Linked DNA regions of Homo sapiens. The protein of the gene in region 2 purifies or fractionates together with the protein of the main gene of each other region. This does not show direct contact. Each region holds a gene or a part of one and is shown on either strand. Other genes may lie near its edges. The genes, in order: SLC2A8, BCAT2 and MMP2.

Region 1 (3,500 bases), on a different chromosome or scaffold from region 2:
ACTGAAGATGCAGAAAGCGGAGGCAAGCCAGAAGGCTCCATAGGGCCTGAGGACCTCCTGCAGAGAGAGGAAAGGCCATGGGTGGACGCGGGGAGAGATCAGGAAGCCCCACGCGATCACTGAGACAGCTCTGCCACCAGGGGGTCCAGTCCCCTGACCCCAGCCTGCCCTGCCCAAGGCCACACCCATTTTATCTCCACCCAGCTCTGGGACATGGAGGATAGTCTGGCATCCAGTCTGGTGGCTTGGGCCGAGCACTGTCCAAGATACCGAGGTCGTATGGCTGGGGAAACTGAGGCTCACAGCAATGAAGTGACTGCCTCAAGGCCAGAGACCCGCTATCCAGTGACAGCTGGGCTCCTGTTCCAGGTCTGACTCCAGGGCCCACAGACCAACCCTCCACCCTCAGCTTTGGCCCCACCCTGAGGCCCCCGGTGGGTTCTTTCATAGTGTGGTGGAAATGGGTGAGACAGGGCAAAGCGAGCATGGCCCCAGGAGCACATGGGGCCTTCAGTCAGAACCTGTCCCTGCCATCCACCACCACTGTGACCTCCCACGTGCCAGAACTAAAAAGGTGCTTCTCAGCTCCTGGTCCTCTGGGACCTGGCGATCTCTCCCTCCTCGAAGGCCTTCTCTTGGCCTCTTGGACATTTTCTCTCCTAAAAAAGGACTGTTAGGTCCTTTGTCACCTCCTTCTTGGCTTCTTTTCCTCCTTCCTTTGCTGCGCATCCCCTCCCAGCTGCAGCAAGTAATCTCCACCCCCAGGCATCGGCCTGGCCCCCTCGATGTGCTCCCCGGGCAGTCCTGCCTAAGCGGGTCCCAAGCTCTGCACAGACTCCAGGCTGGCCCCTCATGACCCGCCCCACCACATCCTAACCCAGCCCCACTGGGGTTCATTCTCCCACCACTGCCATGGCCTTTCCCGTCCTTGTCATAAAGGGGACCCTGTCCATCTTGTTCATTGCTCTCCCTGGCGCCTTGAATGGGCCTGGACATGGCACATGCCAGGAGACCTGGAGGGCACAAATGACTGAACAAACAACCAGATCATCTACCCCAGAACTGTCTCTCTGTTGGCTGGGAAGCCCCGGGACAGGGGCCACACCTGTGCCAGTCCATCCGTGAGAAGGCAGCAACAGGATGAACTGAATTAATGCTCCCATCCGTCTTAAGAGCAAGCTGCTGTTACTCTCCTCCAGTTTCAGCCAAAGAAGCGGGCTCAGAGAAGGTAAGCATCATACCCAAGGTCACACAGCAAGGAAGTAGCCAGGGTGGGGCTGCAGCCCAGCCCTGTCAACTCTTCCCATGTAAGACCTTAGGCTCAAGGCCCGCTTTCCTGACGTTCACTAAGGGGAGAGGCCAGCTGTGCTGTCTGACTGCCAAGACAGGCAGAGGACTCCCAAGGGGTCACAGCCTGGGTTCCCCATCTGGCCTAGCCCATCTGCCTCCACGTCGCCTTGCCCAAGATGGCCAGTGGCCCAGGCATGGTGGGGCTCAGGCTGCATGTAAGGCCACGACCCTGGGTCTTCTGCAATACAAGTGGTTTTAGAAAGTGCTTCTCGGCTGACTGCACGAACGCGGTGCTGGTGGAGCCTGCCCTCACCATGAGGCTGCTGAACTCCTTGGTCACGAGAAAGGCCATGAGCCAGTTGGTGAGGACGCAGATGCCTGTCGCCACGCCCTTGACATGCAGAGGGAAGATCTCTGACATGAGGAGCCAGGGGATGGGCCCCCAGCCCACCGCAAAGCCTGTGGGAGCGAGACAGGCAAGACAGGCATCAGGGTCCGCAGGGCTGGGCTCCTCAGCTTGCTGCAGAGCCAAGAGACCCAGCTTCCCAGCCTGTGGGGCTGTGGGGTCCCGGATCCCAGTGTGGTCCCACCAGCTCCATGCTTTCCTGCCAAGGCCTCGGCCAGCCTCTTCCCTCCTCAGGCACAGGCTCTGTCTCTGAGATGGGGTCACAACGGGGCCTGCTCGAGGGCTGCTCAGGGGATTAAGTGAAAGGAACGCAGAGGGGCCTAGTTCCACAGCTGCATGTGGTCAGAGCTAGAAATGCAGAGCTTGGAACTTACGAGAGGAGAGGTGAGGCTGGGGAAGACCCCACCTGCCGGGAGCCGCCACAGCAGGGCCGGGGGGATCACCTCCCACTCCTCGCCCAGCCTCCCACAGGCCCCCTTACCGGCGATGAAGAGGCACATGCTGCCCACGGCCAGCCAGGCCAGCCCCACGCTGGCATCAACAGGCTGTGCAGAGACAGGCGCCGAGATGGCCACGTGCGAGGAGTTGCCAGGGCCACCCTGGGTCAGCTTGAAGTAGGCGCCGAAGGCACTCGTGCTGAACACCATGACCACACCTGCAGGCGGGAGGGCGGCAGTGGGCGGGGCACCCGGGGAACGGCCCAGGGCGCAGCAGCATGGCCTGGATGCCTCTGAGAGGGGCAGGCCCGGCTCCCAGAGAACGGCCAGCTTGGTGTTCTGGCACCTTGGCCGCAGAAGCCCTGACTGGGTGGCAGCCACCCCGCCTTGGACCTCAGCGAACTGCAAAAAGTTCCCGGAGCAGACCCTCTGGGCCGAGGAAATGGGAGGTACCGGCACAGAAGCAGCAGCGAGTAACCCTCAGCCCCGACGGTCGTCTTCGCAGCAGCTGCTGGGTACCAAATGTCCGTGGGCCGCAGCTCTTGCTGAAGGCCTCACGTGGATCACCTCCCACTCCTCAAAATGGTGCTGAGGGAGGCACTGCCATTACCCCCACTTCCCAGAGGGGGAGACTGAGGCTCAGAGAGGTAAAGTCACTTGTCCAAAAGGACCCACAAACTCTTGAGTCACTTCACCTTCCTGGCCCTCAGTTTTCCCGTCATAAGCTGGGGCTGTGAGAGTGCCTTCTGGTGGGTTCACCACAGAGGTTAAAGGCGTGGTGTGGGAGTGCCACTGGCATGGACAGGCCTGCAGTGAGTGCTTGGTGACAAGCTGCTGTCAAATCATGGCCGCATTAGTCCATGATGTTTGTCATCACAAATGCTCCCTGTCCTCCTCCTGCAGTGTGGTGGCCTTGGCGAAGGCCCTCCCCCGCATGGCGGGGAGGCTGCACAGGGGTGAACCCTCACCTGACAAGACCAGGAGCAGCCTCCGCCCTGCTCTGTCCATGATGAGAGCCGCCACAGCTGTGAACAGCACCTGGATGACACCCACGACGACCGAGGCCAGGCTGCTGTCCTGGGGGAGACAGAGCCCAGGCAGGTCAGGTGGGCCAGCTGAGAGCTGGGTCCCTCCCTCTCCAGGCCTGTGCTGGATGGCTGGGCCCTGGGCTTGGGGAGGAAGCTCCATCTATGTGGGGGCTGGACGAGGCAGGCCAGGCAGGGCCCTTTTACCTTGAACTTGGCCTCTTCAAAGATGGTCTCTGCATAGAACATGACGGCGTTGACCCCCGACAGCTGCTGGAAGGCCATCAGGGAGACGCCGATGATGAAGGGCTTGTAGATGCCGGGCTGCCGCAGCAGGGCCAG
Region 2 (3,844 bases):
CAGGGGGCGGAAGGGGGAGGATGAGGGAGTAGGACAATGCTGTCCCTATGTCACCCACACTCCAGGGCATGTGTGGATTGCAGGCCGACCACGTGTATTATTTTTTATTTTATTTTTTCTTATTTATTTATTTAGAGACAGAGTCTCACTCTGTCCCCCAGGTTGGAGTGCAATGATACAATCTCGCTCACTGCAACCTCCGCCTCCCGGGTTCAAGTGATTCTCCTGCCTCAGCCTCCCCAGTAGCTGGGATTACAGGCGCCCGCCACCACACCCGGCTAATTTTTGTATTTTTAGTAAAGCCAGGGTTTCACCATGTTGGCCAGGCTGTTTTCGAACTCCTGGCCTCAAGTGATCTGCCCACCTCAGCCTCCCAAAGTGCTGGGATTGCAGGCGTGAGCCACCATGCCTGGCCTTATTTTTTATTATTGTGGTACTAATACGCATACATAATAACACACAGCATCAAATGTGGGATTCCAACCATTTTATTTGTTTGTTTGTTTGTTTATTTATTTATGAGATAGAGTTTCACTCTTGTTGCCCAGGCTGGAGTGCAGTGGCACAATCTTGGCTCACTGCAACCTCTGCCTCCCAGGTTCAAGTGATTCTCCTGCCTCAGCCTCCTGAGTAGCTGGGATTATAGACATGCACCACTATTGGCTAATTTTTGTATATTTAGTAGAGACACGGTTTCACCACGTTGGCCAGGCTGGTCTCAAACTCCCGACCTCAGATGATCCACCGCCTCATCCTCCCAAAGGGCTGGGATTACTGGCGTGAGCCACGGCGCCCAGCCTCCAACCATTTTAAAGCCCATAATTCAGTGGCAGGCAATGTTATGCAACCATCAGCACCATCAAGGTTCAGAACTGTTTAATCCCCCATACCTATTAATCAGTACCCATTGTCCCTCACCCCAGCCCATGACAACCATTAGTCTGCTTTCTGTCTTTGTCTACCTGTATTTGTTTATTTATTATCTTTAAATAATAGGGATGGGGTTTCACCATGTTACCCAGGCTGGTTTTGAACTCCTGAGCTCAAGTGATCCACCTGCTTCGGCCTCCCAAAGTGCTGGGATTACAGGCGTGAGTCACCAAGCCTGGCCACCTGCATTTTTGTTGTTGTTGTTATGACTCTTTTTTTGAGAAAGGGTCTTGCTCTGTAGCCCAGGCTGGAGTGCAGTGGCACGATCTTGGCTCACTGCAGCCTTGACCTCCCAGGCTCCAGCGATCCACCTGCGTCAGCCTTCCAAGTAGCTGGGACTGCAGGTGTGCACCACCATGCCCAGCTAATTTTTATTTTATTTTATTTTTTTTTAGGGATGGGGTCTTGTTATGTTGCCCAGGGTGATCTCAGATTTCTAAGCTCAAGTGATCCTCCTGCCTCAGCCTCCCAAAGTCCTGGGATTGCAGGCATGAGCCACTATATCCGGTGTATCCGGGCTCTTTTACCTGGGTTTTGTTTTGTTTTGTTTTTGAGACGGTGTCTTGCTCTGTTTCCCAGGCTGGAGTGCAGTGGCATGGTCTCAGCTCACTGCAACCTCCGCCTCCTAGGCTCAAGTGATCCTCCTGCCTCTGCCTCCCGAGTGGCTAGGACTACAGGCACACACCACCTTGCCCAGTTAATTTTTAAATCTTGTGCAAAGACAGGATCTCACTTTGTTGCCCAGGCTGGTCTCGAACTCCTGGCTTCAAGCAATTCTCCCACCTTAGCCTCCCAGTTCTGGGGTTACAGGTATGAGCCATCATACTGGGCCTGGAAATTCTTCTCTATACCTTAAAGCTTAAAGAGCTTTTTCCATCTTTCTTGCAGCCTCATGCTGTATCATCCTAACAATGCACCTCCTTAGGCAATCCCCTACTGTTGGACACTTAGGTTGTTTCCAGTCTATTATAAACAATTTTGCAATAAAGAATCTAGTACAGGGCCGGCTGTGATGGCTCACCTGCAATCCCAGCACTTTGGGAGGCTGAGGCAGGTGGGTCACCTGAGGTCAGGAGTTCAAGACCAGCTTTGCCAACATGGTGAAACCCCATCTCTACTAAATATACAAAAATTAGCTGGGTGTGGTGGCGGGTGCCTGTAATCCCAGGTACTCGGGAGGCTGAGGCAGGAGAATTGCTTGAACCCGGGAGGCGGAGGTTGCAGTGAGCCGAGATTGCGCCACTGCACTCCAGCCTGGGTGGCAGAGTGAGACTCCATCTCAAAAAAAAAAAAAAAAAAAAAAAAGGAATCCAGTACACACGTCCCTTCTTTAGTCACTTGTTTAAGTGCAAATGTATCTAGAGGCTCAATTTCGGGAACTGTAGGTCAAAGGATATGTATGCTTGTAATCTTGATACGTATCGCCACATCTACATCTACAGGGTGTGTCAGTTTCCACACCCACCAGCAGAGCCTGTTTCCATACCTTGGACAACCCTTGTCCAAGTTTTAGATCTTTTCCAATCTCCCATGTGGTTTTAAAGGTATCTCAAACTAATTTTAATTTGCATTTTTCTCCCTAGTGATTAATGAAATTGACTATCTTCTCACGAGCTTAAGGGCCACCTGTATTTCCTTTTGTGTGAACTGTCCATTTGCTAGGCTGATTTTTCTATCAGGTTAGGTTTTAAAAAATTCATCTGGGGCTGGGAAGAAGAGGCAGGGGGATTGCTTGAGCTCAGGAGTTCAAGACCAGCCTGGGCAACATAGTAAGACCCTATCTGTACAAGAAATTGGAAAAAAAAAAAAAGTCCAGTCGTGGTGGCTCACGCCTGTAATCCCAGCACTTTGGGAGGCCGAGGTGGGCGCATCACCTGAGGTCAGGAGTTCAAGACCAGCCTGGCCAACGTGGTGAAACCCCGTCTCTACCAAAAACACAAAAATTAGCCGGGCGTGGTTGTAGGCACCTGTAATCCCAGCTACTTGGGAGGTTGAGGCAAAAGAATTGCTTGAACCTGGGAGGTAGAGGTTGCAGTGAGCCAAGATAGAGCACTTCAGCCTGGGCAACAGAGTGAGACTCCATCTCAAATAAAATAAAAAATAAAATTCCCAATCCAAGATATAAAACAGTTATTTTTGTTTCCTTCTATAGCTTTTATGGTGTAATATATATATATATATTTTGTTTAGACTTTTAATGCACCTGGAATTTTTTCTGGTGTGAGGTGTGAAATAGAGATTCAACGTAGTTTTTCTCTAGATGGATATTTGGTTATCTATTCCATTATTCAGTCTGTCCACTCATATAGCAGTGTCACTCTGTTTTAAGTATTGTAGATTTATAATGTTTTACTACCTGATATGGCTACTCCCTGCCCCTGCCCCATCTTGCCCCTCATTTTTGTGGTGGTGGTTTTTATCCCCCCAAAATATTGTAGCTAGTTTTGCTTGTCTTCCATTCATTTATCTATTCATTCATCAAAAACCCACTATGGGAAAAAAAAAAAAAGTCTGGCTGGGTGCAGTGGCTCACCCCTGTAATCCTAGCACTTTGGGAGGCTGAGGCGGGTGGATCAACTAAAAATACAAAAATTAGCTGGGCGTGGTGGTGGGCGCCTGTAATCCCAGCTACCCAGGAGGCCGAGGCACAAGAATCACTTGGACCTGGGAGGCGGAGGTTGCAATCAGCAGAGATCACGCCACTGCACTCCAGCCTGGGTGACAGAGTGAGACCCTGTCTCAAAACAAAACAAAACAAAACAAAACAAAAAAACACTCTGTGCCAAGCGCTGCCTACCCTGGTGCATGGGACTGCAGGAGAGGCTGTCTGGTAAACGTGTCAAGGGTAATCCCTGCCTTCCAGGCTCTTCCACTCTGCAGTGGAGCAGATGCTGAACAAGCAAACTTGGAACCA
Region 3 (3,500 bases), on a different chromosome or scaffold from region 2:
GAATGAATCCACGGCACAGAGCCCATGTTCCTTCTCCCCTGGCCCAGGCCTTCCGCCCTCCCCTGCCCTGGCTCCAGGCCCTGCAGCTGTGAGAAGTCTTTCTGGGTCTTACTGCCTGGAGCCAGGCCAAGGAGCAGAGGTCAGGGATCTGGAAACCTTCCCAGCACTAGGATGAAGGAGTTGATTTGTTTTCCTGGGCGCCGCCTGCCTGCCTGCCCTGCACAATAAAGAAGTGTGTATTTGCAAGGAGCTGGGCCCTGGCTAGGGGCGGGGAGTCCTAGAAAGCGGAGACAGTCCTGGGTGGCTCACCGCCGCCCTGCAGGTCCACGACGGCATCCAGGTTATCGGGGATGGCATTCCAGGCATCTGCGATGAGCTTGGGGAAGCCAGGATCCATTTTCTTCTTCACCTCATTGTATCTGTAAAGAAACAGACACAGTGAACCAGCAGGGCCTCTCTAAAGGACACTTCCCCCCTGGCCTGGATGGGAGCACCCAGCTGATGGCTCCTGGATAGGCCTCGGAAACTGGACCTAGCCCTTCAGGGAAGCAGCCAGCTGCAGTGGAAGGAAGGGCATGGAATCAGACCTGAGTCTGAGCCTCAGATCTACCACTTTTAATTATATGACTTTGGATGACCCCATAAAAACAATCTCATGATTACTGCTAACATTTATAAAGCACTTACTACATGCCAAACAGTGTGTTAACCACTTTCCATACAGCTACAGTTTTACCAGCTGTAAAATGGGGTTGTGTCTAATTTAGTGTATTTAATTTAATGCATGCATTAAATAAAACAGCACATGCAGAGCCTCTATCCCCATGTCTCATAAATATTTAGTAGGTACTTAAGAAATGTTAGCTCCCTTACAAACAAATCCCTGCTGTAATCCGAGGAGTGCTAAACTAGAAGCCCAGGGATGGGAATCTGCCCCATCATTCTTTCACTTCATGGCTTGGAAAAATTGCTGCTTCTTCATCTGCCACAGGGAGATGACAGTCCCTGCCCTGGGAGATGACCATGGCTGGGGCAGTGAGGTTACAATGCAAGGTGGAAGGTACGTGTAAGTCCAAGGCCTGTTAGTCACAGGGTGGGCCACATGCCACCTCAGTTCCGGCGGCAGCAATCCTGGGCCCCGCCTTTAATTCAGGTAAATACTTTGGGCATCGGTTAGTATGTTCTTCTCCCTGGCTAGCAATCCTTCTGTCTTTTAAGATTTTTGGAGAACTTTTTAAATGCTGCTGTCATGTTGATTCCTTTGCCTCTCCACTTCATTATTCCATAAATATTTACTGAGCTCCCACTATGGGAGCTATGGATATCCTAGTAAACAAGTCTTGCCCAAGTGGAGCTGTTTCTAGATGAATCTGTGTTCGCATCCCATCCTGGTAGCAGCCACCTTTTGCTCCACAGTGCCTCCTAGGGGGCTCCCTTCCTTTCTGCAGCCAGCCTTGACCACCTCCACCCTGGACCCCAACAGCAGCTTTCCCTATATGCTCCCTTCTAGAGGAGACTTCTCCCTCAAAGGGACTTCTCCCTCAGCCATCACCCCGAAGAACTAACGCCTTCCTTAATCCCAGGTGCAGCATAAAACTCATTCTTACAAAACCTGGCATGCTTCCTCATGCCCTGGGTCACCAAAACCAAGTTCCCTAGCTCAAAATCCCAACACTCCCATCCAAGGCACCTCCACTGAGCCCTCAAACTACATTCCCTAGCGTTAGGATAGTTTGGAGATGTGTGTCCCACACTTGAACTGGCCCTCATTTCTTTCTCATTCTACCCACAGAAGGTGGGGATGGCAGAAGTCAAGCCCATTTTACAGATGAGGAAACTGAGTCTCAGATAAGAGAATTAGTTTGCTTCCAAGTTCTTTTCATCCAGAAAGAATACAAGCACTGTGGTGTCAGAAGATGTGGTACTTCTCTGCAGCTGTAGAAGTTGCCATGTATAGCAGGTGTTAAGAACACAGATATTTGTGTCCCAGCTTTTCCTTGAGCCACTTTAGCCTCAGTTTCCACACTTGGGAAAAGGAGCTAACAGTATCTACCTCAACTGAGAAATATAGGTGACCTGCATAGCCTCAGGCTGGGCTATGGTAGAGGCCCCATACTGAGAGCCATCATTATCTGATTCAAATGTGTTTACATAATTTTCCCTCATTCTACTATAAACTACATGAGGGCAGGGTGTGATGATTTTTTGACCCCCGTCTCTCCAGCAGCTAGCTAAGTGCCTGGCACACAGCAGATGTGGAACATATATTTGTGGCTTAGTGAAAGCTTCTACAAGCAGGGCCTGAGCTCTTCTTGGCATGCTGAAGACAGCTGCTCAGCCTCTGTCACTCTGGGGCTCTCTCTCCTTCTCCAGCAAAGATGCCTCTGGGGCCTCTGCAGACTCCACGGCAGGGCCAGTGTCACAAGCTCATTCACCACTTCTCTTGGAATAGAGATCTGTCTCCTTTGGAAGCCAGCCCAGAGCTTCTGATAGGCCCTTCAGCTCTGTCCCTTTTCAGGAAGTCTCAGGGTGGTTCCTCTGTAGAGCACGCTGTCTGTCCTGGCTCTGGCTTTGGGAGGTGGGCTTGTGTGGAAAAGGACTGGGAGGCAAATAACTCTGCCTGGAAATCCAGCAAGGCACTGCCACAACCTCCATGCCTGTGTGTGTGTGTGTGTGTGTGTGTGTGTGTGTGTGTGTGTGTGTATGCGCACATGCGCACACAATCATGTTCCTATATGCTAGGAACAGGTCTGTTTTTGCATGTTTACATAGATACAGTGCATGGAAAAGTGATTTAAAAAGTTCTTCCAACACCATAATTTGAAAACTTCAGGGCTTTAGGATTCTAAGATTCACGTTTCTGTGAGTCTGTGCGGCTCACCAGCCACAATTCTAAGACTTGGAGATTCAGGGCTCCTACAATGCTGAGATGCCATTCGCAGTACGCGTGTGTGTGTGTGCGTGTGCGTGCACACTGTCTGGGGCTAGTGTCTGGAGCTGGTGGGTGGAAAGCCTGCTCTGTGGTTTCCTGCCTGACTGTTTTCTTTCTTGAGGCTTGAGATATCAATCAGCTTAGGTTGCTAAGTGTCTTAGCAATATGTCTGGAATTCCACCCTGACATGGGCAGGCCTGGGATATAAAGAGTTTCTGAATGCAGGGCAGCTGGGGGGCAGAGTAGTGGGGAGGAGGGAAGGGGGAGAAGACAGAGGCCTTAGGAAGTAAGCGGGATTGTTTTGGGGATGGCAGACAAAGGCCTCAGGAAGTGCCCTCTAAAATTCTTGGGTAGGGCCCAGATGCAGTGGCAGCCATGGAAGGAATGTGGGGATACCAGGAGGGAGGGGATGGAAAGACACACCACAAGTCTTTGTGCCCCGACCACTCTTTCCTCACTAATCAAATGGACTGGCAGGTATAGTGGAGGGGGTACTCAGTTAGAATACAAGAGAAGTAGCTATAATCCTGGCTTTGTGCAAATACACATATCTCTATAGCTTGAACAA

The links.
Region 1: the proteins of BCAT2 (region 2) and SLC2A8 fractionate together in Homo sapiens (co-fractionation; one large-scale study listed by BioGRID). This does not show direct contact.
Region 3: the proteins of BCAT2 (region 2) and MMP2 fractionate together in Homo sapiens (co-fractionation; one large-scale study listed by BioGRID). This does not show direct contact.

The regions. Positions count from the first base shown.
Region 1 is NC_000009.12:127,403,669-127,407,168, reverse strand, and holds part of SLC2A8 (solute carrier family 2, facilitated glucose transporter member 8), read right to left. Parts: coding exon 3,366-3,500; intron 3,211-3,365; coding exon 3,102-3,210; intron 2,352-3,101; coding exon 2,178-2,351; intron 1,750-2,177; coding exon 1,604-1,749; intron 58-1,603; coding exon 1-57.
Region 2 is NC_000019.10:48,800,833-48,804,676, reverse strand, and holds part of BCAT2 (branched-chain-amino-acid aminotransferase, mitochondrial isoform a precursor), read left to right. Parts: intron 1-3,844. UniProt on the Homo sapiens protein: Catalyzes the first reaction in the catabolism of the essential branched chain amino acids leucine, isoleucine, and valine. May also function as a transporter of branched chain alpha-keto acids.
Region 3 is NC_000016.10:55,499,698-55,503,197, reverse strand, and holds part of MMP2 (72 kDa type IV collagenase isoform 1 preproprotein), read right to left. Parts: intron 420-3,500; coding exon 310-419; intron 1-309.